Regions from separate parts of the Homo sapiens genome. Here region 1 is linked to region 2. The links come from fine-mapping of genetic effects on gene expression. A gene starts in region 2. The other region holds a variant in brackets. All regions are shown on one strand. Distances are from middle to middle. Region 1 holds the start of LOC107984563 (a long non-coding RNA gene). Region 2 holds the start of ESD (esterase D).

The links.
Region 1: its variant is fine-mapped to the expression of ESD in amygdala (GTEx, PIP above 0.99).

Annotation. Positions count from the first base shown.
Region 1 is chr13:46,757,354-46,773,391 of GRCh38, forward strand. It overlaps ESD (esterase D), which reads right to left. Exons shown (of 10, transcript NM_001984.2): 10 at 13,903-14,143. The coding sequence ends at 14,063. LOC107984563 (a long non-coding RNA gene) reads left to right here and starts at 2,805. Exons shown (of 3, transcript XR_001749983.2): 1 at 2,805-2,895; 2 at 3,484-3,581; 3 at 4,148-4,279. The variant G/A (reference allele first, on the strand shown) is at 9,095.
Region 2 is chr13:46,789,011-46,805,048 of GRCh38, forward strand. It overlaps ESD (esterase D), which reads right to left and starts at 8,151. Exons shown (of 10, transcript NM_001984.2): 1 at 8,095-8,151; 2 at 4,387-4,434; 3 at 2,336-2,410. The coding sequence starts at 2,403. RefSeq lists enhancers at 7,286-7,887, 8,019-8,068 and a silencer at 7,659-7,708.

The sequences.
Region 1 (16,038 bases), 32 kb before region 2:
CTGTAGCAGATCTCTCAGCAGTACAATCAGAAGCCAATCAATGATAATCTCTTCAAAGTGCTGAGAGAGGCTGGGAGTGATGGCTCACGCCTGTAATCCCAGCACTTTGGGAGGCCAAGGCAGGTGGACCACTCGAGCTCAGGAGTTCGAGACTAGCCTGGCCAACATGGTGAAACCCTGTCTCTACTAAAAATACAAAAATTAGCCGGGTGTGGTGGCGTGCACCTGTAATCCCAGCTACTTGGGAGGCTGAGGAAAGAGATTCACTTGAACCCCGGAGCAGGAGGTTGCAGTGAGCTGACATCGTGCCACTGCACTCAAGCCTGGGTGATACAGTGAGACTCAGTCTCAAAAGACAGAAAAGAAAGAGAAAGAAAGAAAAAGAAAAGAATGAAAGAGAGAGAGAGAGAAAGAAGAGAGGGACAGGGAGGAAGGGAGGAAGGAAGGGGAAAGAAGGAAAAAGAAAAAAGGAAGGAAGAAAAGAAAGAGAAGAAAGAAAAGGAAGACAGGAAGAAAGAAAAAGAAGAAAAGAAAGAAAGGAAGGAAGAAAGAACTGAGAGAAAATAGCTTAATATTTTCAGACAAACAAAAACGTAATTCACTATCAACACACTTTCACTGAATGATGTATTTCAGGGAGAAGGAAGGTCTAACCGCCCCCCCCACAAAAAAAAAACAGTGGCCAAAAGATAAACATGTAACTATGTGTGCATATCCAAACAAACATTGGCTGTACGTTAATGACATTAATGGCTAATTTAGGGTAGGAGTTGCTGAAAAGCAAAACAAAACAAAAATAGAAAGAAAATGCTGGCCAGTACTACATACAAGATGAAAAGGCTTGATCTCAGTTAAAATATTTCAGTTTCTTGCTATTTTGGAGGAGGGTAGATGCATTGTTGCATTTTCAATCATGTTAAATGTAAATGTTAAAACTTTAATGAAAAGACAAGAGTGTCTATCACTTTCAGATCAGTAAAGAGAAGAATATAAAGTTAGAAAGTCCCTTCCAAAAGTAAGGAAGGATGTAGACTGGGGAGAAGAAGCAGAAGGAACAGAGTAAAGGAAGGGACCCAAATAACAGAGCAGAAATAAACTCAGATACATCAGCAAGCATGATAAATAGCAAGAAACTAGATAGCTGAAAGGCAGATTGGATTTCCAAGAAAAGCAACTATATATTTACAGACACAACGAGATATAAGGGCATAGACTGAAAGTAAAAAGACAGAAAGTGATGCCACACACTAATTTCTGTTTATATATGAATAATAAGAAAGCCCAGCAAACACTTGAGAAAGACTGTCTAAATAAGTAGGCTGGAAATCTGTGTCAGTACAAACCCAGGGCTAAGACAGCTGTGTCCTACCTGTAGATCTTTCTTTTCAGAAGTACGTGTGTTTATGGGCAGAGGATGCTGTCAGGCAGGTCTGGAGCTGAGGATCGCTGCGTGAAGCACAGCGTCATCGAGAATGCAAGACAGTCATCATCTGGATGAAGGTAAAGTGACATTTACTGACAAGGTGAGAGAGGCGATGACACCAAAGTCATGGCAGGCAGTTACCTATAGAAAATCCATCTGACCATTATGCTCTGTGCTTTTTAATGCTGGTTGCAAAGATAAATTGGGTCAGCAACACCCATGATAAGAAGTCACTGAGCATTTAAAGGCAGTGAGCAACATATTGGTACTTGTGAGTCATAAAATGGGGCAAGGTGGGGATGAGACTGGGGAGGAATAGCGGATAGGCTGCCGCTTTCCAATGTGACTAGGAATGCCAAAGTAAATAAAATGGGGTACTTGGCCAATAAACTCTCCTAACAACTTGCTATAGGTTAGATATGGTTTGTTTGGTTCTACCAAGTTTCATGTTGAAATTTCATCCCAGCGCTGGAGGTGGAGCATAGTGGGAGGTGTTTGGATCATGGGAGTGGGTTTCTCATGAATGGCTTGGTGCCATTCTGCCAGGAGTGAGTTCTCACTCTTAGTTCCTGTCACAATTGGTTGTTGAAAAGAGGCTGGCACCTTCCCCCTCTCTCTTGCTTTCACTCTTGGCATGTGATCTCTGCACACAGGCTCCCCTTCACCTTCCACCATAAGTGGAAGCAGCTTGAAGCCCTCACCAGCAGCAGATGCTGACATCATGCTTCATGTAGAACCCCGAGCCAAGTAAACCTCCTTTCTTTATAAATCACCCAGCCTCAGGTATTCCTTTATAACAATGCACACAGACTAAGACACAACTATCGCTTTTCTCTGAGAAAAAAAGGCCAGGCACAGTTTCTCATGCTTATAATCCCAGCACTTTGGGAGACTGAGGGTGATGGATCACTTGAGCCTAGGAGTTTGAGACCAGCCTGAGCAACATGGCAAAACCCCTCCTCTACAAAAACAAACAAACAAAACATACAAAAATTAGCAGGGGCATGGTGGCTCGTGCTGTAGTCCCAGATAGCTGGTGACTACAGCAAGACTGTCTCCAAAAAAAAAAAAAAAAAAAAAAAAAAAATTTGCTGTCCTCTAAGTTGATTTCCACATAGACATCTGCTACAGTCACAAAAGCCAGAGGAAGGGGAAGGGGAGAAGACATGTCTACTGCCTTGGAAGACTCCACACAGCCTCTAGTTAGACTGAATGTGTAGGTGGTGAGGTAACAGAACTCCTTGCCACATAATTTTATTGCTTAACTGGGCAGAACTCTGCTTGAATATTGACTTTGTGCCGTTGGCTTCTTTTCCTGCTTCCTGCTTCAGCTCTTCCAAAGTGTTGTCTCAAATCTCGTTCAGTCTGTCCCCAGCTTGCCTCTTAATTTACAAGGAAAATGAGGGCCTCAGCAGTGAAGTGTCAACTTATTTCCTGTCTTGGAGGAGTAGATGGCACTTCTCCCTCCCAAGGTTAGATGCCAACTCCACAGCCTTGGGAGATTTTATGTTATTTGTTCTCTCTCTCTCTCTTTGTCTCTTGATCTCCTCCTCCACCCTCTCCTCTCCACCTATAGTTTAATTATTCAGCCACAAATTCAAACATTACCAGGCTATAAGAAAGATACTTTTCTTGACTTCATCTTTTCCCTCAAAATACTGTCTAGTTTCTCCTCTCCCTGTTAAGTTCTTTAAAGAGTATTCTATAAGCAATGCTGGAGTGTAAACTTAGAAAGAATAGAGGTCTTGGTTTTGTTTACTACCATATCCTCAAGGCTTAGAACATGGCCTGATATATAATAGGTGCTTGATGAATATTTGTTGAATAAATGAATGGACAAATGCCTTCATTTCTTCTTCTAACCATACCACTTCATTGAAAATACTTTTTGGTCATGGGTCCCACATCTCAGTTGCCAGATCCAATGGCCTCTTTTCAGTCCTTGTTCTATTTGACCTTCCTGTGGCATATGAGATCATTGAAAACTTGCTTCTTGAAAGCCAGTTCTCTCTTAGTACAATTTTTATCTCAATGTTTTTATTTTTCCATCTTCTTCATAGGCTTCTGTTTCTGTGCCCAACCCCTGCCCTCCTGGAAATGAAATGCTTGGCACTCTTCCATCCATGCTGAAGATCTCTGGTGGTGTCCACCAGCCTAGGTAACTTATAACTCTGTATATCTTCACAATGCTAGGTCCATTCTGGGTATCTTCACTTGGATGTCCTATGGGTCCTGCAAATATGTTTAAAATTGACCTCCCTCTGCACCTCCCCAAACTCCTTCTTTATATGCGTTTCCCGGTTCAGTGATTTCATCATCTTCCCAGCCTCCCAAGCTAGACACTGCAGGATGACCACTGATGTGTTCCTGTCCTTTTCAGTCTGTCACTAAGCCCCGCAGATCCTCCCTCAGAAACATCTCTCAGCCCCAGCCTCTCCTCTTTCTCCCTGCTACCTTAGCGCCTGCCCTGATCAGCTCACCCTGGGTAAGTGGTCAATGGCTCATTTGTCACCTTGTCTCCCTCCTCTTCTTCCTCCCTTCTCTGCTGCTACAATAATATTTAGAAAAAGCAAGTCTTATCATGTCTCTTCCCTACTGGAAACATATTCAGCACTTTACTATTACTCACACAATTGATTTTGGTGCTATGCTTGCCCTTCCCAGACTGTTTCCGTCCTACTGCTAACACCCTCTGCTGCAGCCACTCCAGTCTCCTCTTTCCAGGTGCTCCCATGTCTTTGTTCCCTGTGCTACGCCTGCTCCTTGGAATACCCGCTCACCTCTTCTTGACTTTATGAAGTGCTACTGAGCCTTCAAGACTTACGGACAATGTCTCCTTTTTGGTGAGTTTTTTCCCCATCCCCTCCAGATTATTTCTTTCACCTTGGCACCCCTGAAAAAATAATCTGTGTCTGCTTTATGTTCATTTCTCAATAAACCTCTTTTATCGAGCTCGTATTAGACAAATAATAATTTCAATGGGGAAAGAGCATGAAAAGACCCCACAATAGTTCATTTTTCTTACAGGAATCTAAATAAGGGAAGTCATGGATATAAGTGATGAGGAAAACTAAATACAATACCCAATGCTTATCGAGTGGTGTGATGGTTGATTTTAGGTGTTAACTTGACTCGATTAAGGGAGGCCCAGATAACTGGTAAAGCATAATTTCTGGGTGTGTCTGTGAGGCTGCCTCCAGGAGGAGACTGGCATTTGGGTCAGTGAACTGAGTAAACAAAACCTGCCCTCACCAATGAGGGCGGGCACCACCCAATCGGCCAAGGGCTCAGATAGAACAGAAAGGCAGAGGAAAGGTGAATTCTCTGTTTCTCCTGAAGCTGGGGCACTGGCTTCTCCTGTTCTCCTGAACTGCAGGTTCTCCAGCCCTCTGCTAGAACTAGGATAGAAGGAGCGCCAACATAACATCCTTTTACACACATAAGTAAAAGAGAGAAAATGACAATAGGAACTACATGACAATTGGACCCCAAGACTTGCACCTGCAGTCCCCCAGGTTCCCAGTCTCCGGCGTCAGACTGAGAGTGACACCACTGGCTTCCCTGCTTCTCAGGCCTTCAGACTTGGATTGAGCCACACTACCAGCTCCTCTGGTTCTCCAGCTCTCAGATGGCATATCGTGGAACTCCTCAGCCTCCATAATCACATGAGCCAATCTCTCTAACAAATCCCCTGTCATCCATCTCTCTCTCTATATATATCCTATTGATCTTGTTTCTCTGGAGAACCCTGACTAATATGAGTGGCTACTACCTAATTGGCACTGTTCAGGAGGTGTACAAGTAGCAATGCCTGTACATCTTACAAGAACCCTGTGAGATAACATCTACAATCATCCCCATCTCACAGGGAGGTCAGTTGTTCAAGGTCCCATGAATACTAAGTGGCGTAGTTGGGATTCAACTCCTGGAGTTTGTCTTAGAACCCACACTTTTAACGATTATGCTATAACATCTTCCTCTATTTACCAAGTCACTGACCAAATATCTAATAATTAAAAAAAGATGAGTAAATAGCTCAAGGCTTTACTTGGGTTGTTTCATTTGATCCTCTATGACCCTAGGATGTAGGTCCTATTGTCATTATCTCTCTTTTACTTATGTGTGTAAACGATGTTATGGTTATAGCAGAGGTCCCAAAATAATGGGCGCTCTGTTCCACCACCTTCCAAAAACAAGGTGCTTGTTCATCGCAAAGAGGATGCAAATCCCACTTCTGTCCAACAGGCTCTATGAAGAATACAAGAAGAGGTGAGGAGGCCAGAAACTTTCAGAGAAAGATGTTGGAATGCTGTGCATTTGCCCACCTTCCCCTCCCCTGGGAACGAGGAGGGCAGAAGAGAAGAGGTGGGCAAATGCACAGCCTGTGGGGTGGCAGGGCAAAGAGACCAGGCGGGAGGACACAGGTTTCTCCAGATGTGGGCCCTGCAAAAGGGAGCTGCTACCTAAGGCTGCCTTGAACTGTACTGGACAGGAACTTTTTTTTTTTTTTTTTGAGTTGGAGTCTTGCTCTGTTACTCAGGCTGGTACGATCTCAGCTCACTGCAACCTCTGCCTCCCGGGTTCAAGTGATTCTCCTGCCTCAGCCTCCCCAGTAGCTGGGATTACAGCCGTGCACCACCACACCCAGCTAATTTTTGTATTTTCAGTGGAGACGGTTTCACCATGTTGGCCAGGCTGGTGTCAAACTCCTGACCTCAAGTGATCCACCTGCCTTGGCCTCCCAAAGTGCTGGGATTACAGGTGTGAACCACCACACCCGGCCTGGAGAGCACTTCTTGAGGGCTGGATGAAAACAACTGTGACTGCAGCAGAAAGGTTGAGGGAGGATTCGAATGGTGACAAAGCCCTTAGCCTGGTCTTTTTGCCATGATCCAGGTCAGAATGATTACGTAAGGCTGGAATATTTGCAGGATCGTCTTAGAATTCATGCTTGAAAATCAAACAATCATTCCAACATCTGGGATAGCCTCTCTGCATTACGTAGCATGATATGGGCTGGAATATTTTATTTTTATTTTTGAGACAGGGTCTTTTTTTGTTACCCAGGCTGGAGTGCAGTTGTGCAGTCATGGCTCACTGCAGCCTTGATCTCCTGGGCTCAAGCAATCCTCCCACCTCAACCTCCTAGGCAGCTGGGACTATAGGCACACACGACCATACCCAGCTAATTTTTTTTTTCTTCTATTTTTTGTAGAGACAGTGTCTCATGGTTACCCAGGCTGGTCTCAAACTCCTGTTTAAGCAACCCTCCTACCTTAGCCTCCCAAAGTGCTGGGATTGCAGTTGTGAGCCACTGAGCCCGGCCTATTTTACATTTAAAGCAGGGCATGTTCTGTCGTCTGTCAGGTCTTATTTGAATATAACTAAGAAAATGGGTGATTTGCTATTCATCCTAGAAAACTTTTTAAGAGTGCACGGTATATTTATTGTGCTTCTCCTAAAAGAAACACTGGGTGGCAGTGTTTTTACTCAAATGTTTTCAGAAGAGACCCAAAAGGAAAAGGCTTTCCTCTTTAAGGAATATTAATCCCATTGAACCAGCAATGACTAATAAGGCAATCTGCCTTCAATCAACCACGTGAACAGCCTGGGGTCAATATTACAACTCTAAATGCAGGGTTTAAATGCACACACACACACACACACACACACACACACACACACACACACACACACACACAAAATAATACACCCCAAAACCAGAATGCCCAAAATAATATCTAGGATAAATTGGAAAAAAAAAAGTCCCTTGCCTCACCCACTTCCCAGCTCCATGCCTCATTTTTAGGGGTATTTGAATTTTTCTAATAAGCCCAATAAGATGAAAATGTTACTTTATTTGGTTGAGTATACTATTATCATCCAACAAAGAAAGTGCTAGAACTCTATTTTCTTTATGTACTATCACCAGAAAGTGAAGCTCATTAAGTGTCGTTAGAGACAGAAGCTGCCACCTGGTGCCAAAGAGACACAAATGAAATCGAAAATTCACTGGTCATGGATTGGAATCCCAGAGTTGGGCCAAATACAACAACAAATAAAAAAATATATATCTGATAAGCAAAAGACATTTTCTCTTGGACTAGCAGGGCTATGAAAGGATGAGAAATTTACAAACTATGTTCTCTCTTCGAGGAAAATATTTTATTTCTATAGCCAACCATTCTTTGTACTGGCAGAGTAGAAACTAATAGCGCAATAGATAATCTGTGTGTTGGTGCTCACAATGTTGTCTCCTCTCACTTAAAAAGTTGTGGTTTAAAAAGTAAGCTTAAAAAGAAATTTGGGAGGCACATTTGCCACACACACCCATACTATATGACTTTTAATTTATAATTGTATACATTAGCATACCAATATGCTATGTATATTATAAGGCATGCACAAAAATAGAAATTTTAACAGGAGATGATGAAATAAAAATAAATATAGACAGAAGCTCTAATCCTGTCCATTGGATGGTCTTGTGCACCCCTGAAGGACGGCACGGGTCACTTTGAAGTTCAATGGCCCTAATGCATCTAGTCACTAACATCTGGATAAGATGACAGAGATTTCATGTGGGTATCTTGTCTTGCTACACAGCCCTGGGAGTTAGTGTAGGGGTTTTTGTTTATTTACTCTGCTTTCCAGTGAGGAATTGGCCTTTGAAAGATGCAATGACTGGCCTGAAGTACCTTTGGGAGGCAGGACCTTACAAGGGTTTCTTCTCCTGAAAGTCTCATTATTCACACAGTCAGCTATGTTAATTCTATTTTTTTTTTTTAATTCCAATGTGTTTTTGAACCAGAACTTAAGTTCTCAGAAATACAAAGTAAGAAGCATGAAAATGTGTTTCTGGACCTTGGCACAGATGAGTGTAAGCACTGTTCTTTCTGATTTTCAACATTTATTAGTGTTTAAAATTAGTATTTTACAACTGAAAATATACATGAATAACTTTTTCTGTAAAAATGATATAATCCACCAAAAATAAAGCTTTTCTGGCTGTTATTTTCAACTCTGGTGCCCTCCTCCTCTTTCCCAGAAGTAACTCATTATTTCCATTCAGAACTTTTCCCATGAAATATATTTGTACCTATAGCAAAATACATATTGTTTTGATGGCTTGTGAAAATGTAAACAGTGTCAAATTTTTCACCAACTTACTTTGATTCTTAAATATTTGGGGTTGTTTTCGTATTTATTACAAACAAGGCTGCAATGCATGCCTTTACACAGGCCTCCTTTTGTATATCTTTCTCCACAAAGCTACTGAAAAATAATTTGGCAGCACCATTTACAGAAAGGCTCATGTTTTCCTCACTGATTTGAGACATTGCTATTAACATACGCTAAATTTCTGTGTGGGTCTGTGGCAGGACTTTTCTGATGGGATGAACTCTTCTGAGTCCAAACCCGTTTTAATTATCACAGCTTTATAATGTCTTGACAACTGGCAGAGCAATTTGTTCTCTCTCAAGCCGTCTTGGCATATTCTTCCATATAAATTTTATAATTAGCTTGTCAAGCTCCATGAACAACTTTGAGATTTTGATTAAGATTATATTGCATTTGTAGATTAATCTGGGGTATGTTTGTAGCTTTACAATATTGAGAGTTTTATTCCATGAATATGATATTGCTTTCCATTTAAGACTTACTTTATTT[G/A]CTAGAGGTATTATACAATTCTGGTTTGAGTTCTTTCTAGGTAGTTTTTTGTTGCTGCTGTGAATAGGATCATTTTAAAATAATTTTTATTAAACATAGACTTATAGAAAAATCACTAATTTTGAGACAGTTATATTGTTTCTAGCCACTTTACGAAACTCTTACTGGTTCTAACACTTTGTCCTCCATTTCGACTGTAGTGGATGCCTCTTTTGTCATGGTCCCCTGTGCTGCTGTGGCCATCGCTGCATCTTTACTTCCCCCCACCACCCCCCCGGCAACCTCTGCCAATGTCTTCTTAGCTACTGCTGTTGCCATCCCCATCACTGGAACACCAACAGTGACATTTCCTTTCTTCATCCGAAACCCCAATTCTTCAGATTACTTGGAGGCTAGGCTTCAAAAATGAAAGCTTAAAAAAAAATCTGGCTGTTTTAATTTTAAAGTGGCTTTCATTGCAGAAGGTCGATAAAACAATGTAATCTGTTACATACTGTATATACCCAGTGTGCCTAAATACAAGACAACCTTGAACATGAGAGGATCTGCATTTTTCTTTTTCTTTTTTTTTATTTTTTGAGATGGAGTCTCGCTCTGTCACCTAGGCTGGAGTGCAGTGGCACGATCTTGGCTCACTGCAACCTCTGCCTCCCGGGTTCAAGCGATTCTTCTGCCTCAGCCTCCTGAGTGGTTGGGATAACAGGTGCACGCCATGATGCCAGGCTAATTTTTGTATTTTTAGTAGAGATGGGGTTTCACCACGTTGGCCAGGCTGGTCTCAAACTCCTGACCTTGTGATCCACCTGCCTCAGCCTCCCAAAGTGCTGGGATTACAGGTGTGAGCCACTGCGCCTGGCCTGGATCTGCATTTTTCTAATGATAACATCCAAAACTTTGGCTAATTCGAATACATTTATACATTTTTAAATATATAATTCATGCCTACTTGTCACAGATTTTATATGTATACTTTAAAAATACTTGAGATATGTCAGCTTGGAAATATTAAATATTCTGTTGTAAGATTTTATGACATGGTTTTATCTAAACTCATTTGCATCGTCAATATCAGTAACATCACTACAGCCATTTTTTTCTGGGGGAGGGGGCAGATAGAGTCTCAGTCCGTTGCTGGAGTGCGGTGGTGCAATCTCAGCTCACTGCAACCTCTGCCTCCCAGGTTCCAACGATTCTCCTGCCTCAGTCTCCTGAGTAGCTGGGATTAAAGGCACCTGCCACCACACCTGGCTAATTTTTGCATTTTTAGTAGAGATGGGGTTTTGCCATGTTGGCCAGGCTGGTCTCAAACTCCTGACCTCAAGTGGTCCACCCACCTCGGCCTGCCAAAGTGCTGGGATAACAGATGTGAGCCACCACGCCTGGCCTACAGCCACTTTTTGCAGCAACTTTTCACATCACCTTCACTTCTAAGTGGTTTGAGATACAATATTACTTGAATTGATAAACGATGTAGCCACTGGAAATTGTATCCCCCAAGATAAGTATTCTTTGCAATAACATCAGGATTTTTAAATTCTTCATGCAGTAGTATATTTATGATCTTCACAGCATAACTACTTAATATACTTTTAATGTAAACCTTATTAAAGTATAACACATATTAAAAAGTTTATAAATCCTAAGTGTATGGCCTGATGAATTTTCAGTGAACATGCTCATGTACCAAGCACCTGGATGAAGATAGCATCACCAGTACTCTCTCCTGCCATGCTCCAATCACCTCTCCCTCAGAATGCCCCCCACCACCCCCTTCCATTGCCTTGCTATGTGTAACACCTCCTGTCTTCAATACTATGCATATAAAATGGTACCAAGTTATTATATAGCACATAATTTGGTGTCAGGATTCTTTCTTCCAGATTATGATTGAGACCCCATCCATGTTGCTGCATCCAGTTATAGTGTGTTTATTTTTATTCATGTAGAATATTTCATTGTATGAATATGCTCCAATTTTACTAATTCTGTTATAGATGGATTCAGGTTATTTCTAGATTTTGGCCATTGTAAATGGTGCTGCTGTAAACATTCTCATGTAGCCATAATGTTCCTGTTAAGTACAGAAACATGCATTGAAAGGCTATAGGAGACGTGCTAAGTAAGGTCTGAGGCCTCATCAGACCTTACCAGTTTGCTAAGGTTGAACTAGACCTTAGCAGATCCTGCCAGATTGCACCTTATTAGCAGTATAATTCAGGTCGCCATGTTTCCTTGTCAACACCTGGGATTTTCCATTGTCTGAACTTTAGCCATTCAGGTGGGTGTGTAGGTTCATTGCATTGTAGTTTTTATTCGTATTTCCCCAGTCTTACTAAGCACATTTTCAGGCATTCATTAGCCATATTTGTCCTATTTTGTTAAGTACAAATTTTTTGCCAAATTTTATGTTTTTAAGAATTTGTGAGAGTTCTTCAGGCATTCTAGATACAAGTTATTTGTCAGATATATGTGTTGCAAGCATCTCCATCTACTTTGTGGCTTGTCCTTTTACTCTTCATGGTGGTGGCTTTACAGTATTACGTTTCTTCAAGAACATAATCTTCACAAGGGTCTTACATTGAACATAATCCAGGAAATGTCAGATTCCTTTACCTCCTTTTATACCTGATTGTCAGGTGACTTCTAGAAACACCCTAAACAAGCATTGGGAGTTAATGTTTAGGTTATGTATTGTTAACTATGTCACTGAGATGGAACCTTACAATATGAGAGACATTAAGATTGAACTCTTTCTAGTTGGGGAAACTCATGTTACATTTAGGCATTGATAAGGACTCATCCCTCCCCAGGCCAGCATTTGTGGCACAAAAAAGCAAGCTCAAATGTATTGGTTTATTATCCTCAACAGTCATTTCTGTTTTAACTAAAGGTCTTTGTCTTTACTAACATTAGCTGTTCATCAGCAATTACTTAATGAATATTTAAATGTTTTGCATTTACGTGTAAAAAAGCAAAGCAACTATTTTCTAACAATGATACACTAACTAACTTAGCTGTTTGTTACAGTCCCCTGTTATTCAAATACTAATCTAGGTGTTGCTATGAAGGAATTTTGCAGATAAAGTCCCTAATCAACTGACTTTAAAGAGGAGAGACAATCCAGTGGACCTCACTTAATCAGAAGGCCTTAAAAGCAAGACTGAGGCCTCACCAGGAGAGAAGAAATTCCTCCTGTGTACAACAGCTTGAGCCCATGCCCAGAGTCCGTCCTGCTTGTGCCTGTCCCTTCCTGACTGCTGCTCTATGGATTTTGGACTTGCTTAGCCAGCCCTCATAATCAGGTATGCCAATTCCTTGTTTTTTTTTTTTTTTTTATATATATATATTTATTATACTTTTAAGTTCTAGGGTACATGTGCACAACGCGCAGGTTTGTTACATATGTATACATGTACCATGTTGGTGTGCTGCACCCATTAACTCGTCATTTAGCATTAGGTATGTCTCCTAATGCTATCCCTCCCCCCTCCCCCCTCCCCCCACCCCACAACAGGCCTCAGTGTGTGATGTTCCCCTTCCTGTGTCCAAGTGTTCCCATTGTTCAATTCCCACCTGTGAGTGAGAACATGCGGTGTTTGGTTTTTTGTCCTTGAGATAGTTTGCCGAGAATGACGGTTTCCAGCTTCATCCATGTCCCTACAAAGGACATGAACTCATCCTTTTTTATGACTGCATAGTATTCCATAGTGTATATGTGCCACATTTTCTTAATCCAGGTATGCCAATTCCTCGTTTTTTAAAAAAAATCTTAATGTATATATCTCCTACTAGTTTTGCTTCCCTGGTTTAAACCTCAACCTCAATGATCTTAGGGACAATTGTTTTTCTTCACAAATAAATTACCAGCATGTAAAACGTTCATGAATGATCTTATTAGAAGACACAAGACTGTTTAAATGAGAACCATTCTGTGTACAGCTCATTCAAGGGCTCAACCTTGACTACTGATGTTTAAATAATACTAATTTTATAACTTTAGGAACTTAATGTCATTTTCTTCAGTTACCATAATATGCATTCCTACTGAATGTTTAAAATTTATTTTTTAACAGAAAAAAATATATTTTTAAAGCAGCCAGGTTTTACTGGCTTCTATCATGTTTTACTGGCTTTTATCACATTTCAAAAAGTTTGTCTATTAAAAGTTCTTAAAGGAAAACAATTGGGTATTTACAGAGATATTACTTTTCTTGGTGAGCTCACCAAGTTAAATCTCTGCTTGCAACTATGGGAAAATATTCATGTTTACAGTAACATATGAAACTAATACGTTTCCTTATTTAGCCATTTTCAGATTGAATCTTATTTAATTCTTGAGAACCTTAATACACCCAAAAACCAATGTTCACAAATATATTAGACTCAATAGGTAAGAAAAGAAAATCTGTCTTCTAATATCCCACAAATAGCTGTGTAACGATGGGGAATTCATTTAACCTTTCTGAGCCTACCTCTTTATTCTGTAGCTAACAGTTATTAAATATCCACTAGAAATCAAGTGGATATTTGCTTTCTAGACACTTGCTAGACACTAGAGATACAACAATGAACATGACAAAGACAGTCCAATGTCTTCAGAGGCTTAAAGTCTGGAAAGGTGAGGAGTCTGGGCTAAATTACTTTTAAGTCTTCTGTTCCAGAGTTGCTACTCTATACTTCAAATAGGATTACATTCATATTCTATGACCTGGGATTAATACAAGAATTTCCAAACGACACTGAAAAAGCTATAGAGCATTAAAGATTTCCTATGTGAACACTTGTAAAATAACTTTTAAAATCAGAAGTAGGTTTTATATCTTTATTCAGAGGTGATTCAACTATAGAATAAAGCCCTTTTAGCACTATAAAATCCAATGTTTTGAATTTTTTTTTTTTTTGCTCAGCAATACAGTTGCATTTTACAACTTTTATAATCCTGAAGAGATTCTCTTATTTGGAGTTTTTTCATGCATTCAGGTATTTAGCATGATGTCTGATGTGGTCAGTAATAAAGGTTGCAATGAAGTAGTAGCTATGATCATAACCCTAGAAGATAAAGAGATGATAAGACATTTATCTACCATTCAGGAACATCAGTATTAGGAACATTAAATATATCTCTAAGGTCGTTTAATTTGCTTACAAATAGTCATAACATTAAGGAAGTATGAGGAAGGTTTATAATAAAATCAAGGTTGTCATCCTTGTACTTTAACATTTTCACTGTACATTAAAAGAGCAGCAAAAATGTGAAGGAAAACTAAACATTCTGCCTAGCTTCTAAACATAGCCTAACTTCTAAATGCTGCCATTAATATGTAAAGAGTGGAAGTAACACATTAATTAAATATGCAGAGTAGACATGTCATATCAACACTGTAGAGTGCATTAAATATGCAGAGTAGACACTGTCATTGAAAATGACACTATCAATTGACAGTGTCAGTTGATATGACACTGTCATATCAACCAAGATGAAAAGAATCAGGATTTAGAGATCTTAGAAACATGGGCAAGACATTTCAATTCACAAATGCAGCACATCAGTAAGACAGTGACTATTAAAACACAAAATAAGCACACAAACAATATAGAAAAAGAACATAAAAATGCCCAAATGTTCTATCATTGTTGGGAAGTCAAACACAGCCATCATAAATCCTGTTAACAATTCCTCCTACACAGTAAAAGCATGTTGTATCTTTATGTGAGGGGAAATATGTCATTAAGGCCTGACATCCCTTAGCAAATTAGGTAAAAAGTCAGTAATCCTTTGGAAAACTAACATGAAACAGAGAAAAATGCAATGTGCTAAGCAGTTAAGTTGAAAGAGATTTCTATCTATCCAGTCATTTAAAACCATTGTTGTAGGTAAATGGAGAAATAATCCCTTTCTGCTGACTCTGACACTTCTTCTGAATATAAAAAATAGTCTTCCAAAAAAAAAATAATTACAATAAGGTATTAACGCATTTTCCTTCTTTTTTTGTTGTTCAACTTTTAAGTTCAGGAGTACATGTGCTGGATATGCAGTTACATAAGTAAACGTGTGCCATGGTGGTTTGCTGCTCAGATCAAGCCATCACCTAGGTATTAAGCCGAGCATCCATCAGCTGTTCTTCCTGATGCTTTCCCCAACTCCCATCGCCCTTTGGCAGGCCCCAGTGTGGGTTGTTCCCCTCCATATATCCATGTGTTCTCACCATTCAGCTCCTGCTTATAAGTGAGAGCATGTGGTGTTTGGTCTTTTTTTTTTTTGAGACGGAGTCTCACTCTGTCACCCATGCTGGAGTGCATGATCTTGGCTCACTGCAACCTCCACATCCCGGGTTCAAGCGATTCTCCTGCCTCAGCCTCCCGACTAGCTGGGACTACAGGTGCATGCCACCATGCCCAGCTAATTTTTTGTATTTTTAGTAGAGACGGGGTTTCGCCATGTTAGCCAGGATGGTCTCGATCTCCTGACCTTGTGATCCGTCCACCTTAGCCTCCCAAAGTGCTGGGATTACAGGCGTGAGCCACTGCGCCTGGCCTGGTGTTTGGTTTTCTATTCCTGCATTAGTTTGTTGAGGATAATGGCTTCCAACTCCATCCATGTCCCTGCAAAGGACATGATCTCATTCCTTTTTATGGCTGTACAGTATTCCATGGTGCATATGTACCACATTTTCTTTATTTAGTCTATCACCGATGGGTACTTGGGTTGATTCCATGTCTTTGCTATTGAATAGTATTGAATAGTACTGTAGTGAACATATGTGTGCTTGTATCTTTATAACAGAATGATTTATATTCCTTTGGGTATACACCTAGTAATAGGATTGCTGGGTCAAATGGCATTTCTGCCTCTAGGTCTGCGGAATCACCACACTATCTTCTACAATGGTTAAACTAATTTACACTCCAGGTGGGAAGAACTTTCTAAGGGTATCAAACACCAG
Region 2 (16,038 bases):
CTACTGAGCACCTGAAATGTGGCTAGTGGGACTGAAGTTTTATTAATTAGCTAATTTGATGTAAATGGCTACATGTAATTACTGGCTACCATCTCCAACTTTTGACCTGCTGCTTTCTAGTTGCTGCCTTAATATAGCTCCACTCATCTGGAAACTCTTTCTCCTCTGATCTGTTTTCTTGGATCTTATGCCTTCAGCTATCTTGCTTTAGTCCCTCATTTTGGTGAAGCATATTATTCAGTTGCTTCCAAAAGTGCATGGGAAATACACTTTGAGACCTTTCATATATGAAAACATCTTCATTCTACTCTCACTTAATTGACAATATGGTTGGACATAGAAGTTATCCTTCAGAATCCTGAAAGCACTGCTGCTCTGCCTTCTTAGTTCTAGTAATACCGTTGAGCTGACCTAAACCTTTGAAAAATTCTTAATCTACTTTCTCTTTTTCTCAATGTTTGAGAATTTTCTTTGTTCCCAACACTCTAAAACTTTACTATGTTGTTGGTGTAGATCTATTTTCATCCATTGTACTAGACAACTTTTTAAATCTGGCAACTTCAGTTCTGGGAATTCTTGAATTATTTATTATTTATATCTATACCTCTATTTCTGTTCTATTTTCCAAAATTCCTAACTTTTAATGTTGGATTTTTGGACTAGTCCTCTAATTTTGTTGTCCTTTCTGATTTATCACTTTTATCTTATTTTACTTTCTAGAATGTTCAACTAACCATTCTATTGAGTTTTGTCATTTCTACTACCAAAATTTAAATGTCTAGGCTTTTTTGTAGTTGAGGATTTTTTTATTTTATGTTTTTTGAGACAGAGTTTCGCTCTTGTCGCCCAGGCTGGAGTGCAGTGGTGCCATCTTAGCTCACTGCAACCTCTGCCTCCCAGGTTCAAGCAATTCTCCTGCCTCAGCCTCCTAAGTAGCTGGGACTACAGGTGTGCATAACCATGCCTGGCTAATTTTTGTACATATATATATATATATATTTTTTTTTTTTCAGTAGAGACAGGGTTTCACCATGTTGGCCAGGTTGGTCTCGAACTCCTGACCTCAGGTGATCTGCCTGCCTTGGCCTCCCAAAGTGTTAGTATTACAGGTGTAAGTCACCACACCTGGCCATGTACTTGAATATTTTTTAATAGCATCCTATGAAGTCAAGAGGTCAATATCTTTTATACTTTGATATGAAGAGAAGTTCATATCAAATTAAAGACTTTATACAAATGTCTAGTGATCTTTAGCTGTCCACTCCTATTTAAGAGAGAAACACTAAAAATCTAGTTGAAAGCACTGTGCCTACAGGTGGAGTTGTCAATCATTGCTTTACTGTAAGGTCTGGTTAGGTTACTTTGTTGGCAAATCTCAGTATCTTGAAATCTCTTCCTTTGGGCTACTCAAACTCCCCACAAAGAAATTCTTCTAAAGGATATAAGACTAAGTCCCCAAATTTTGAAAGCTAGTGGAAGAAACTCAGTGTGCAAACTTTTGCTTAATCTATTTGCAGTATCACAATCCCACTAATTGTGTCTGGTATTCCCCAGTACAAACAGTTTACTTTCTCTAGAGAACTTACCTCCAATCTTTCCCAGAGTTAGGAAGAGGCAGTCCATAAAGCTGGGACACTCTCAGATCTATCTCCTTTTAAAAACAGACTTTCAATTAATCTTTTTTCTAAGCTCAACTTTTATCCTTATTTTCAGGGGTCCCTGGTGCCTCCAATTACTATGGCTTTAAATAAATTGTGTCATTTCTCAGGTTTTCTTGCTTATGTTTAGAATGTAGCTTTCTAGGTTTTACTAAGTCAGGTACTACCTCTCCATTTGTATTCCTGCTTCTAAAATGTTATTCTTAGCTCCTGTCTCCTGCTTCTTTATGCCTTTATAGGTATATGTATGTGTGCGTGTGTGTTTAATCTCTTTACTTAATGCCATGTTAGTCAGAGTTTTGGAGGCAGCGGAAGCAAATGCATGTGTTTAGTGTGCCATCTTTCTCAAAAAGTCCAGGTGTTTTTCCTACACTTAGAGATCCTCAAAGAAAATGTTTTCAGAATTTTTACTGGCAACATAAGCATTTTCATAAAGTTTCAGAAGAGCATCATGTCAAAGCTTGAAGATACTTCTCTGTTAAGGCTCTACCTCACACAATCACATCCACAGTTAATTAAGTCTGGTAGAATTGTCAAATACATAACCACAGAAAGAGAGTAAGCAAGTTTAAAAGTAAAATGAGGTACTATAATATCTAGATAAAGATTGGTTTTAAAATAGAACAAAATAATCCAACAGAATGAGGTATCTAAAATTATATCTTCTTAATAGTTACCTGTCATGTTCAAAAACTTTCTGCAATCCCCCAAAGCACTTGTTGCTGGAAATCTGCTTCAATGCCATTCTTTTCCTATTAGTAAAGAGTAATCTCATTAATTTCCAGAGAATTAGTTACTGAAAAACTTGAAACAAAACTAATTGCCTTCAGATAAATTATCTGAACATACAACTATTTTCTACTTAGAATTTTTTTTTCACATTTTTCTCCAGTAAATAATATTAAGAAACTGATTAACGCTCATACATGCATTTACACTTGTTACTCACTTTTAAAAGCTTTCATACTTTGGTATATCATTACTAATTTATTAACAAGTTTTTTCGTTGTGGTGGACTGCCCCAAATTATTTTTAAAAGAGGCAGAAAATACATAAGTTACCAATTAATTACCTTAGTTTAGAAGATTAAAAATTGTTAATAGTCTGCCTATCAACTGCAACAAAGTAGTCAAGGAATTGGTATGACTGATTATAGTTGATTTTAAAATGGAAGAAAGATGTGATAATGATTTTGGTAATAATAATATGTAACATTACTGAACACTTACGGTGTGATACACATTTTTCTAGACACTAAACCAGATCCAATTACTCATCCCATGAATTTTTAAGAGAAAGTGATATGAAACTTTAAGATCAACATTTATTTCTCCTTTTAAAACAAACCAATAAGTAAAACAAGCCTGTTAACTTCTTTTCTGTCCAACAAATCTTTTGTTTTCATGTAAAAATAATTTTAAACTTACATGTAAAATGACATATTTTATTGCTTTTAATGATAAATACAGGAAAAAAGTTGGAAAACTATCTTTATCATAAATGCCTATTAAGCAAAGGGAAACCACACTGATTCTGACATGTACCTCTCAAAGAAAGATTCCCTTTCTATTCCTAGAAACACTGTATTAGAATATAAGGCAGTAAGTCCTACATATTGAAGAAAAAGCTTTAGATATCAGGAACAGGTATTACCACCCTGGTGATCTTCTCAGAGAAATGCACTACTACATGCTAATCAGCTGGAGCTTTAGGATTACTCTTTCAAAGATGTATAACAATAATCTTAAAAAGCTAATTTTGGAAATGTCTTTATAAAATACTTTAAAAAATTAGTTTCAATCTTATCTCTAATTTCTTCAATAAACCCAAATAGTTTTATTTTGGAAGACTGGGATTTGAACCCAGAAGTCTGACATCAGAAGCCCTACTCTTAACTGCTATGCTGTCCTGACTCTCTAGAGGTTCTTTAAATACTCATTTTTTAAGACACTTTAAGATAACTGATTCTATAGAATTATGATATTACAACTGTACACAAAGAAATTACCATCTGCTCAGTTTTATGCTTTTAATCTATAAAAGATTAATTCTTAAACAATAAACTCCCATGAGATGTTATTAGTTACTGAATATTAACTTTAGCTACTGTTAACAATCCTATCTTAAATAATGAACTTATAGAGAGAGATACTAATTTTAATATATTAATACATATATATGAGACCAACAAATAAAATTTATTTGCTCCATTATTCCACAAGGAAACCAGATTTTCTTAAACTTAGAAAGGACTATATCCACTTTGCAAAAGATGGTACACTGAGCACGTATCTGGTACATAGGAGTCTGTATCTTTGCTATTCGTCTATTTTAATAAACCTCAAGTTGTCAGTTTTCTCTGCTCTTAAAATTCAAAATCAAATGCTTTTCATTTGGCCAGAAGAAACAAGATTAAAACACTTTTTAAAAGTTGGTAGAATATTTTTTAAAAAACAAAGCTTTTAAAGTATTTTTTCTACCCACCATTTTAGAAACTATCTTTAATTACAAATCAAAAAAATATGTTAGGCTTAACAAGAAATATGACATAAACTAAGAACTAGATATGACATACTGTGATATACTATGATATCTGATACATTATAATAGGTGGTTATATTTTTCAATAGAATTTTTCTATGTGAAAAATAGCACGTTTTAAAACAAGCTATTAGTGGTATTTTCATTCAATGTTCAGAGTAACATATAAACAATAAAACAAGTTTACCTGTCCAATTGCTGATTGCTTTTTGCTTGCACCAAATGGTAGGCGATTCTGAAAAAAACACCAATGGTTTACAAATGGGATATACTTTTCACAGCAAAGGTTATACAGAGCTTTTATATGCATATGCATTCTCAATAGAGATGTTTTCTTCTTTTGAGGTAAATGACTGTACACCCTGATGGGATACCACATCACCACTTAATTACCTTAATTGCCCATAATCTAATTATTTGCCACAGGCCACCTTAATACCTATTTTGCCATAAAGCTTGTTGGTACTTGGTCAAAACCATCTGCTGAAGTAAAAGTACTATGAAAGTTTTTTATCTTTTTAAATCAATAAACAAAGTTTTCAAGTGTAATTTCGAAGCATGAGATGTAGTCAACTCCTGAGTGAAGAAAATAAGAGTGGGGACTAGGTAAGTAGAGGAAGATGGATCTATCTGGCTCAGTTGTAAGTCGAACTTGTAACATGGGGAGAAAGAAGGGAAGAGATGAGGACTGAAGGACTACTACTAGGGTGACTAGAAAGGATGTATAAGAAAAGTGGGCTTATGAACGATGAAGTGACTGATATTCAGTAAGAAAAATATATATGGAAACTTACATAGTATATATCATGTCACTTATCTGGTAGATTTCATTTAGGCTCTAGAACAAATATATATTTAGGTTCTAGAACAGATTTTGTGGGAGAAATAGGGTGACAGAGTAGGGTGGAATACCAAAAAACCAAACAACACCCTTCCTCCTTCCCCTCCAAAAAACAACAACAACAACAACAACAACAAAAACAGAAAAACAATTTCACAGTGCCAGTGGGAGTTACACAATTTTTCCCAAATGTTAGTGAACATCAACATTCTTTGGAGAAGAAAGGGTCTCTCAGTGCATAATACATCCATTCCCCTAAAGGTCAAACCTTACTGTTCTTCCCTTTATTTTTTATTTTTTGGAGATGGGGTCTTGGCTGTGTGGCCCAGGTTGTAGTACAGTTGCATAATCATGACTCAGTGTAACCTAGAACTCCAAGCTTCAAGTGTTCTCCTACCTCAGCCTCCTGAGCAGCTAGGACTACAGGTGCGTACCACACTGGAATATTTTTTTTTTTAATTTTTTGTAGAGACAGGGCCCTTTACTTATTAAAGTTAAATGTCATCCACCTCCAGAAATCTGAGTTCTATTTTTATCCTTCTTCCCCTGTGTCTCAAGTTTTCCATAAATCTCTACATGTGTTTTTTTGTTCCCATTCTCTCAGATTCCTTGGATTTTGATGTTTCTTCATTTCCAGGATGTCCTATTCCACTGGCTCTTAACAACCTAGACAGGTGTTCCCAAAACCAACAATCTACAGTTCCAATAACTGCTGTTGACCACCACTGTGTTGTTCAAATCCTCTTCTCAGTGAAAACTCAGGATCTGGCTTCTTCCCTTTCACTCTGTCTCCTCCCACCTCCCTTTTCTTTTTTCTTCACACTCTTTCCCTAAACCTCATTCCCTAAATTTCAACTACATTTTCTGGGTGAAATAATCTAAATCTGCATCTCTATAACCAATCTTTCTCAAGCATTAGTACCCATAATGACATTTCTTGCTGGACTCTTCTACCAAGACATGTCACCAGCTATTAAAACTTACCACACCTAAAATTAAGCTTCTGCATCTCACCTTCAAACCATTCCTCTTTTCATTGCCTCTCTTTTTCAGACTCATGCCTGTCTTGCCTAATCTACATTTGAGATGCCTCAAAGTTACCTTCTTTTTGAATTCCCACTGCCATCATCCTAATTATATATAAGAAATTAAAACTTAGCCTCTTCCTTTCTTCCTAATACATCCCACTACGATCAATCCTGCATGAAAGCCTAGGGTTTTAATCCACTTAATTTACTGGTCAACGGATCCCTACCAACAGCTCATCTGCAGCCTAATACGGCCTACGTGGAATTGTTAGTCATTTTTATTTAGTATTTTAAAAACTGTGATAAAAACACATACATAATATTTACTATCTTAACCATTCCTAAGTGTGTATTTCAGTAGTGTTAAGTATCCATTAGTCATATGTAAAAACGCAGTTCGCCAGCTCACAATAATGAGCAGATGAGAACTGCCTCATCACCCCCTGGCTGCTGCAGGTGGAGACTACTAATCCCTTTCGCTGTTAGGCCAGTCGCTGAGAACCAGAAAGTCACTGAAATGGAAGACCATGTTAATTGTACAATTTTCTTCAAGTTTAATGCCATTAAAATTTCATAAAATTAAAACCATGCAGGATCACTGAAAAAATAGATGAATAAAACTCCATATAAACTTCAGTCACACTCTACCTGTGTGCAAACACAGTCTTTTTTTTCTTCTTTTTTTTTTTTTTGAGACAGGGTCAAACTCTGTGGCCCAGATTGGAGTGCAGTGGCCTGATCTCGGCTCACTGCAATCATCTCGGCCCCCGGGCTCAGGTGATCCTCCCGCCTCAGCCTCTGGAGTAGTTGGGACCACAGGTGGCACCACCATGCCCAGGTAATTTTTTGTAGAGGAGGTTTTGCCATGCTGCCTAGGCTGGGTCTCTTTTCCTTCATAAAAATTCACATGGCTTGCCTAGGTAAGGATTTCTATTAAACTCTGGGGAAAATTTTTTAAAAAAAATATAGCATCTATAAACGCCAAACACCTTCACATGGCTCTAAATATGGTCTATAATTTGGTCCCAGATTATTTTTCTGGTCTCACTCCCTATTTTGTTAGTTAAACTCAACTATGCATAATTCTAGGATGGCCTGGATGTTGCTATCGGGTGGCTTTACTCAATGCCACGGTACAATGGTTTCAGAGCAGGTTTTGGGGCCAGACCCTCCGGGTTCAAACCCTGACTTCACCACTTATTACTACATGACACTGGGCAAGCTAATCTATGCCTCATTTGCCCATCTGCAAAATGGGTATACAGTAATATATATCAATTTGATAGGGTTGCTCTGGGAATTAAATGAGTTAATTCACGTAGTGCTTAAAATGCTGCTTCTACCACACACACAAACATGAGCTATTATTTTTCCTGCAACCTGAATGCCCTCTCCTTCCAGGTGCGCTCAATCCCATTTCCCTAATGACCCCATCAGAAATGACTTCCAGTCCCCCACAGCGCTCTGAGAGCATTTTACGACCCGAACAGATTTTGTCAAACTCCAAAGACACGTGCTCCCCTCGGCACCATCAGGTGAGTGCTCCTGACCGCGCCATTGGCTCGTGCCCCGACGCGGACGCTGCCTAGAGCAGCAGGTCCACACTCCCCCGAACCAGGCGCCGGCGGCCGCTAGTAACGCGTTGAGGCCAGCTCCCTCCTTAAAATGCGTACACATCTACTTCACATTTTCGCGCGGTGGCTGCGGGTCTAGGAAAGTCTTTCTGAACAGGAAAAAGCTGTACAAATGTAGCGGGCAGTAGGTAAACGGGCGCTCGCCCCGGGTTACACTAGGTTGGAGGCTCAGAGAAGGAAAAGGGATTAGAGGCGAGGCTCCGGGTCACGGGAAAAGGTCCTTGGCCTCCTGTCATGGATGGTGGCGCCCAAGGCCCAGGGTCGCCGTCTCTGCGCTCGTGCCTGCGGATACCTGCACCGCAGGACTCGGCGTCCGCCCCGATCACGCCTAGCCGTGCCGCAGCCGCAGGAAGGCTGACAACGTCCAGGCCTCTACCCGAACCCAGTCTTACCTACGGTGGCGGAGTGACCAGAAGAAGCGGGCCGAAGTAAAAGGCGGGGCTCAAGATGGCCGCCGGGGCCTCGCCTCAGCCCCGCCCATATGATGCCCCGCCCCTCCGGTCCCACTCACTCTCGCTTTTAACTCCGAGAACCCGCTCTTCTCCAGTTCAGTCTCCATGGCCCCGCCGCCTTTGCACATTGCACTTCCCGGCAGCCTCCGCGTGGGCGCCCCCTCCAACTCCTGCCTTCGCCCGCGTTTCTGCTCTGTGTGGTTACTAGGACCAACGAGGAGGGCGTTAGGTTAGTCCCTGTCACCTTGTCGGGGATCAGTCTGCTGTGCGTGCTCAGACTCTTCCCAGAGCCAGCAGCAAGAACCCGAGGCATTAATAAACTTGAGATGTAGCTTCGCTTAACTCGTGCAGAGGGTTTCCGTGTCACTTATGTAGAAACTAGGGCCTAATTTCAACTCCCTCAACTCCTCTGTCCCAAGACTATCCACGTCACCTACTTGGTAGCTTGAGTTAAACAAGAAACCTTTGAAATCTCCAGTGGCCGACACGCAGTGGGAACTCCATCAGTTTTCTGTTTTCTCCCTTCTTCCCTCAATAAAAATTAAGTTGAACTGACTAAGATTTGCTAGTTGATAATTTACAGCAAATCTTTCCTTTTGGTCTCTCTGATTTAAGCAAACTGTTGAGTGTACTTTGCCTCTTGAGAAATTAAATCTGATTACAACAGAGCTAAGTATTTTTCAGCAACGGTTAGACTGACATTGTAAATACACAATCTGATAGTTGGGGCTGGCCTCATGGGCCTGCAACCTGTGCTATTACCCGGCCCCCAGAACAGAAGGACGCTACATTTTCTCTCAGTAAGTGTTGAACCAGGGCCCCACGTTTGTGTCTGGAATTGGGCCCTGCAAATTGTGTAGCTATGGGAGCTGACTTAAGTATGGATGAGCTGCCACACAAGAGATTACCTGCCAGAATCTATTGTGTGGCTCAGGCCCATTTTGCCATAGTGATCTTTGGACTAAATTAACCTGTGGACTGAACCTGTGGATCAATTGGAACTTAGACTGAAAATAATGTTTCATCAAAATAATGTTTTTATTTTGAGAAAGCATTGAAGTAAATTGTTTTAAACTTTCTTTTTACTATCTTTAAGTATAAATCATTGAAAAGGGGATTTTCTTCAGTTTCAAAACTGAAACAGAATAAATACCTAAATTGCAAGTTCTTTATAACTGATGTTTGAACAAAGAGAAATAATTGATTAAATGATATATTTGCCTAATAAGTGGACTGCTGTGAGGTGCAGACTAGCCAAAGAACTGTAAGTGTGAAGTTCTTTACTAAAGGGTTCTTGTGTGAATACAATGTGAGAATAAGCAGAACTAAAATTTCTTTTACCCAGCATAAATAAAATGTTAATAGATCCACAAAAGTCGATTGCTTAAAAATATTAAGAATATATATAATTATCATTATTATTTGGACATGGAAGCAAAGAAGGCTGAAATCAGAAATTAAGGTTGACATTTTAAAAAATGGCACTACCAATAAAAATGGATGAATATTAAGTACACAAAGAAATAGTCCAAAAATTATGTGTAAATGTGTGGCTGAGAGGATATAGGACTCTTGGTTTGAACTAAAATGAGTAGGAATATAATCTTAAGGAGGCAATAAAGGGATGCAATAAAAATGAGAAAAAGTCAAATATACTTGAAGCCTGTAAGAAAAGAGATTGTTTTAGTCAGTTCCAGCTTAACAGAAATTTATTCCTCACCATTCTAAAAGTCTGGGAAGTCCAAGATCAAGGTGCTGATGAAATCTGTTCCTGCTGAGAGCCCTTTTCCTCGTTTGCAGAGGAATACCTTCTTGCTGTAGTCTCACTTGGTGGGTGGGGTGAGGAGAGCTCTGGTTCCTTCATCTTATTGTAAGGGCACTAGTCCCATTCACATGGACTCCACCATCATGGTGTAATTATCTTCCAAAGTCTCCATCTCCAAATACCATCACGTTAAGGATTTAGGGTTCAATGTTTGAATTCTGGGGAACACAAACATTCAATCCATAGCAAAGATAGTTTTAGAGAGACTAGAAAAGACACCATACATAGAAAATAATATAATCTCTTGGGTATCAAATATGCTACTTGAGAAGTGTCCTTGTGGCTTTTCCACAGACTAGAACAGGGTTTCTCAACCTCGGCACTGTTGACATTTGGGGCCAGATGATTCTTTGTCGTGGAGGCCTACCCTGTGCATTGTAGGATGTTTCGTAACATCCCTGGCCTCCACTAGCTAGATGCCAGTGGTACCCCTAACAAGCTTAGATACCCAAAACGTCTCTAGACATTGCCAAATGTCCATGGAAGGAGGGGTTGGTGTAGAGGAGGGCTGCAAAATTGCCCCTAGTTAAGAACCACTGGCCTAGATAAACATTTTTCAAAATTCCCTTTATTTTGATTCTATTCTTATCTAGTGACATTTTGGAAAATAATAGGCTCCATTGTTATTTAATAAATCAGAACTTAGGTTAAAAATGCTTTAGTCTCTGGTGAGTGTAGCTGAGATGATACATTTTCCCAAAGACTTACCATCTCTGAGCATGATACTCACCTTACAGAATTGAGTTTCTGAATGTGTACTCTGAGGACCAGACTTTGGATCATGGGAACTGAACCAAGTACCGGAAACTTATAGCCCTGTGCCACTGTTCCATCTTGACTTTGTTATCTTAAGTTCTAACTGCAGAGTACAATACAACAAGTACAGACAAGCCTTTCAGTCTCACATTCATATTAGCAAATGTCCAAATTTCACATATTTCAATTTTATTTATTTATTTATTTAAGATAGGGTCTTACTCTGTCACCCAGGCTGGAGTGCAATGGCGCAATCATAGTTCATTACAACCTCAAACTCCTGGGCTCAAGTGATCCTACTGCCTCAGCCTCCTGAGTAGCTGGCACTACAGGCGTGTGCTAGCATGCCCAGCTAATTTTTGTATTTTTAGTAGAAATGGGATCTTGCTATGTTGCCCAGGCTGGTCTTGAACTCTTGAGCTCAAGTGATCCTCCCACTTCAGCCTCCCAAAGTGCTGGGATTATAGGCATGAGCCGTTGCACCCAGCTGCATCTGGCCTCAATTCCATTTACTTTTTTTTTTTAATTCTTAAATCCTAAAAGCTATATTTCTTTTTCATCACACATTCAAAAAAATCAAGAGTTAGTGTGTGATTGTACAGAGCTAGACTTTTGTGTTAGCCATTATTGTTATTTTTGTTAGCATGAGAACTAAAACTATAGATTTTTTCCTGTTCAAAGTGACTCCTATTCTTTTATCACCTTTTGCTCAATTACAGTACTGTTAAGTTTCTTAACATTCTACATATTTGTTGAGCCACAGTTTGTCAGTTTATTCATAATTTTTAAAGTTCCATTGATAGCTTATTAGAAACAAAATGAACTCTGGCTATCTGTTAATCATTGGCATGTATGAAAACTGACAAAAGGCCAGTTCACTAACTGTTTTGGTTAATGCTTATAAATCTCCTTTGGTGTAAGATTAGTATTTTGCTAGTGAGACTACCTATGCTTTCATGATCCTTTTCTCAATAATGCCAACTATTTCTTTAGGTCATTTCTAAAATGCCTCCTAGTCACTTACACATTCCCCAGCATAGCTTAAACATGCTTCTATAATTATTTGTAAACATGGAGAGTGAAGTAAAATAAACTATTTCATAGACAATGAGGCAACTAAAAAATTCTGAGATTACCATTATAACCATGGCTGGGATTTTGCTAAAGGAAACTAAGAATTTAGAAGAAAATTGGGGTTTTATGTATCCTCCAAAAGTCAGTAGCTCTAGATATTATATCATTATCTTTTTAGGCTGAGAACTAGGACAGCTTCCTTGGTTATGAAGAATCAGCTGTTAGGTAGAAATCCCCGCAGATATGCCATCTTGGCCTTATTGCAAGGACCATTATATCCACAAGTCACCCCAAATTTCCCTTTCTGTTTGCCTCCCTATATGAAAACAATTTAGAAATTCCATTTTCTTTTTCCCATGTCCTCCCTCCAGCTCTCTCTCTCAATAGACAGATAAATGGATCTATCTATCTATCTATCTATCTATCTATCTATCTATCTATCTATCTACAGTCATGAGTTGCTTTATGACAGGGATGTGTTCTGAGAAATGCATTGATAGCTGATTCTGTCACTATGGGAATATCACAGGGTATACTTACACAAACCTAGATGGTATAGCCTTCTACCCACCTAGGCTACATGGTATAGTCTGTTGCTCCTAGGCTATAAACCTGTACAGCATGTTACTGTACTAAATACTCTTGGCAACTGTTACACAATGGTGTTTGTGTATCTAAACACAGCTAAATACAGAAAAGGTAGAGTAAACATGCAGTATTACAATCTTATGGGACCACTGTAGTGTATATAATAAGTTATTGACCAAAACATTGTAATGCAGCCCATGGCTGCATCTGTACACACACATGCTCAAAATATTACTGTTAAGAAACACTTGCTATGTGCCAGGCACTATGAATGAAGATGACATTATTACCAAGTTATCCCTCCAGGTTCATGAGCTACAGCTCCCTCATAATTCCATCCTATGCTGAAGCTGTATCAAGCTACTTCCCTCCTAATTATAATCTAAACACCCCATGCTCTTATACCATCATGATTTTGCACATGCTGTTCCTTTTGCCTATCCCACAACACACTTCTCACCATGCACAATTTACCTTACAAACTTACATGTTTTTCAGTTCCCAGCTCAAATGCACATTCCCCAAGGAAACTTTTTGAACTGCTTAGATAAAGCTAAGCACTCTTCAGTGCACCTTTAGCCCTTGTACAGCCACACCTCTATTGTGGCACCTAACATTGCATTGCAATTTTGAATATAAGTAAGTTTCTGAAAGGCAGGAGCTGAGTCATATCCTAGCTCTAATACTTGCAAATCGTAGGCACACAAGTGGCTTTAGAATTCATGAAAGGTTACTATGGTCTGGGTATTTGTGTCTCTCCAAAATTCATATGTGGAAATTTAATCTCTAATGTGTTGGTGTTAAGAGGTGGGGCCTTTTAGAAGTGATGAAGTGATGATAGTGGATCCCTCATGAATGGGATAAGCACTCTTATAACAGAAGCCCTTAACCGACACTGAATCTGCTGATGTCTTGATCTGAGACTTTCTAACATCCAGAACTGTGAGCAGTAAATTTCTGTTGTTTATAAATTATCTAGTCTAAGGTATTTTGGTATAGCAGCCCAGTATGACTAAGACAAAGGTTTAGTAATTATCATGTTTTCAGGATTGAAATACGTTTTTTTATTGTTTATAGAATGCAGAAGTAAATTTTTATTTTCTTTCCATAAAAGAACATAAAGGAAACAAAAGCTTAGCATATAACAGTGATGCTATCCATTTGTTAGATGGTTAACATTTTTGACAGATTATGAAATCAACATTTAAAAATATCCCTTTTGAGTTATTCAACAAAGCTGGACGCAAACATCCTTGTTTAAATTGCTAACATTATTCTCTTGTACTTTTTCCCCTAATTGCAAATTTGTTTTTACATTTCTCAGTTTAATTGATTTTCTCACAGACACATGTACTCAGTCTATTCATAGAAACATTTTCCTTAGGTTTGCATACTAATTTATTTCATAACCCAAAATAAAGTTGTTTTACAGTTTTGAAATAAAGCAATTTGCCCTTTTAATTTACAGATTAAATACTGCTTTAAATATTAAATCATAAAACGATTTTTTTGGAGGGAAGTGATGTTCTAGTTACCTACTGCTTTGTAACTAGCCACACCAGAACTTAGTGGCTTAAAGTGGCAATTGATTATTATCTCTCATGGGTCCAGGGGCTGACAGGCTTAGCTGGTGCATCTCATTTGTGGTTCTTCATCTAGTTGAAGTCAGATGGTTGGAGGTTGAATTGCTGATAGCTTCTTCAGTTTCCTATCTGGTGCCTGGGCTGGAATGGCGGGAACAACTGGAGGCTGCTGGAGCACCTTCTCTCCACCTGGCTAGCTTGGATTTCCTCACAGCATGGTAGTCTCAGGGTAGTTGGACTTCCTACATTAGGTCTGGCTGCCCCCTATCAAGCATTGCAAGAAGCCCCGGCAGAAGCTGCAACACTTCTTATGACATAGTGGGTAGGGAAAACTCTCTCTGTTTTTCCTCTACTCTCACACCACAGCAGTTGTCAACACAGAAGTCTTCTGTGACCAAATGTGTGGGTTTTGTTCCCCACACACCAAGCAGCAGACACCAGCTGGGTATCCTCTAATTTGGTTCTAACACTATCTACCTGGAGATAGTGTCAGAACCCACCGTCGCAAGTCTAGGCCTCCAGAACTTTTGACCTACCTGCTTCAAGTTGGGATCCCCATGACCTCCTCTTTGGGTTCAATTAATTTGCTGGAGTGGCTCCCAGAACTCAGGAAAACACTTACTAATGTTTACCGTTTTTTAATGAAAGACATTGCAAAGGATACAAATGAAGAGACACATAGGGTGAGGTATGGGGGAAGGGGTTAGGAGCTTCCATGCTCTCCCTGGGTGAGCCATCCTCTAGGAACTTCCACGTGTTCAGCTATCCGCAAGCCCACGAAACCCTATCCTCCTGGGCTTTTATGGACACTTCATGACTTCAGCATTTCTTCCCCCAGGGAAAGCATGGGACTCTTTCATGGGAGCGTCTTAAGACCAACAGTCAGACCAATGGGGGAAACATTAGAATGAAAGGAGGGCAGGTGGCCTGCCCCTGAGTCCTAACACACCTGATATTCTAACACAAGACTGTAACAAGGGCTGCAGGGGTTAGCCAGGAACTGTGGACAATAACCAAGAAATATCATAACACCACACATAGTCTTGGAAATCCCAGAATGTCATTTCTGCCATATTCTATTGCCCAAGCAAATCACTAAGGCCAGCCCAGAGTCCATCGGAAGGAAGCAATGACATCTATGTGCTGAGAAGGAAGGAGTAGATGGAAGTCATCCTTGACACAAACTACCACAGATAACTGAGATTTTTTTTTTTTGTTAAAGACTTAATTTTTAATGAGCAGTTTTATGTTCATAGTAAAATTGAGAAGAAGGTATAAAGGGTAATATTATATGTATTATTCTAGAACTACCCCATCTTTTTTTTTAAACAGCTGCATAGTATGTCATTCTATGAATGTACCATATTTTATTTAACCAATGGCATATTATCCTGGTTACTAAAGCTGCATAAAAAACTACTCCAAAACTTAGTCCTGTGAAATACCATCTTGTTGCGCTCACTCTGTAGGTTAGGAATTTGGTCAGGGCATAATGGGGATGACTTGTCTCTGATTCATGATGTCTGAGACCTCTGCTGGGGAGATCCAGCAGCTGAGGTGACTCAATAACTGGGGAATGGAATCATTGGTGGTATTTTCACTCACATGCCTGTTGGTTGGTGCTGGCTGTTGGCCAGAGCACCTACCTGTCCATGTGGCCGGAGCTTCCTAACAACATGGCCCCTTCAGGGCAGTCAGATTTTTTACATGGTGACCCAGGACTCTAAAGGCAAGTGTCTCAAGAGAGAGAGGCAGAAACTGTGTGGCTTTTTCTGACCTAGTGATGGAAGTCCACACAGTGCGGCCTATTGGTCACAGTAGTCACAAACTACCTAGAATTCAAGAGAGGGGACTGGATGAGAGAAGTGTCAAAGAATTTGTGAACACATCTTCAAAACCACCACACTTACTTGGACATTTAGACCGTTATAGTTTTGTTTATTACAACAGCACAGCAGTGAATATGAGTGATATGGTTTGGTTTTGTGTCCCCATCCAAATCTCATGTCGAATTGTAATCCTCAGTATTGGAGGAGGAGCCTGGTGGGAGGTGATTGG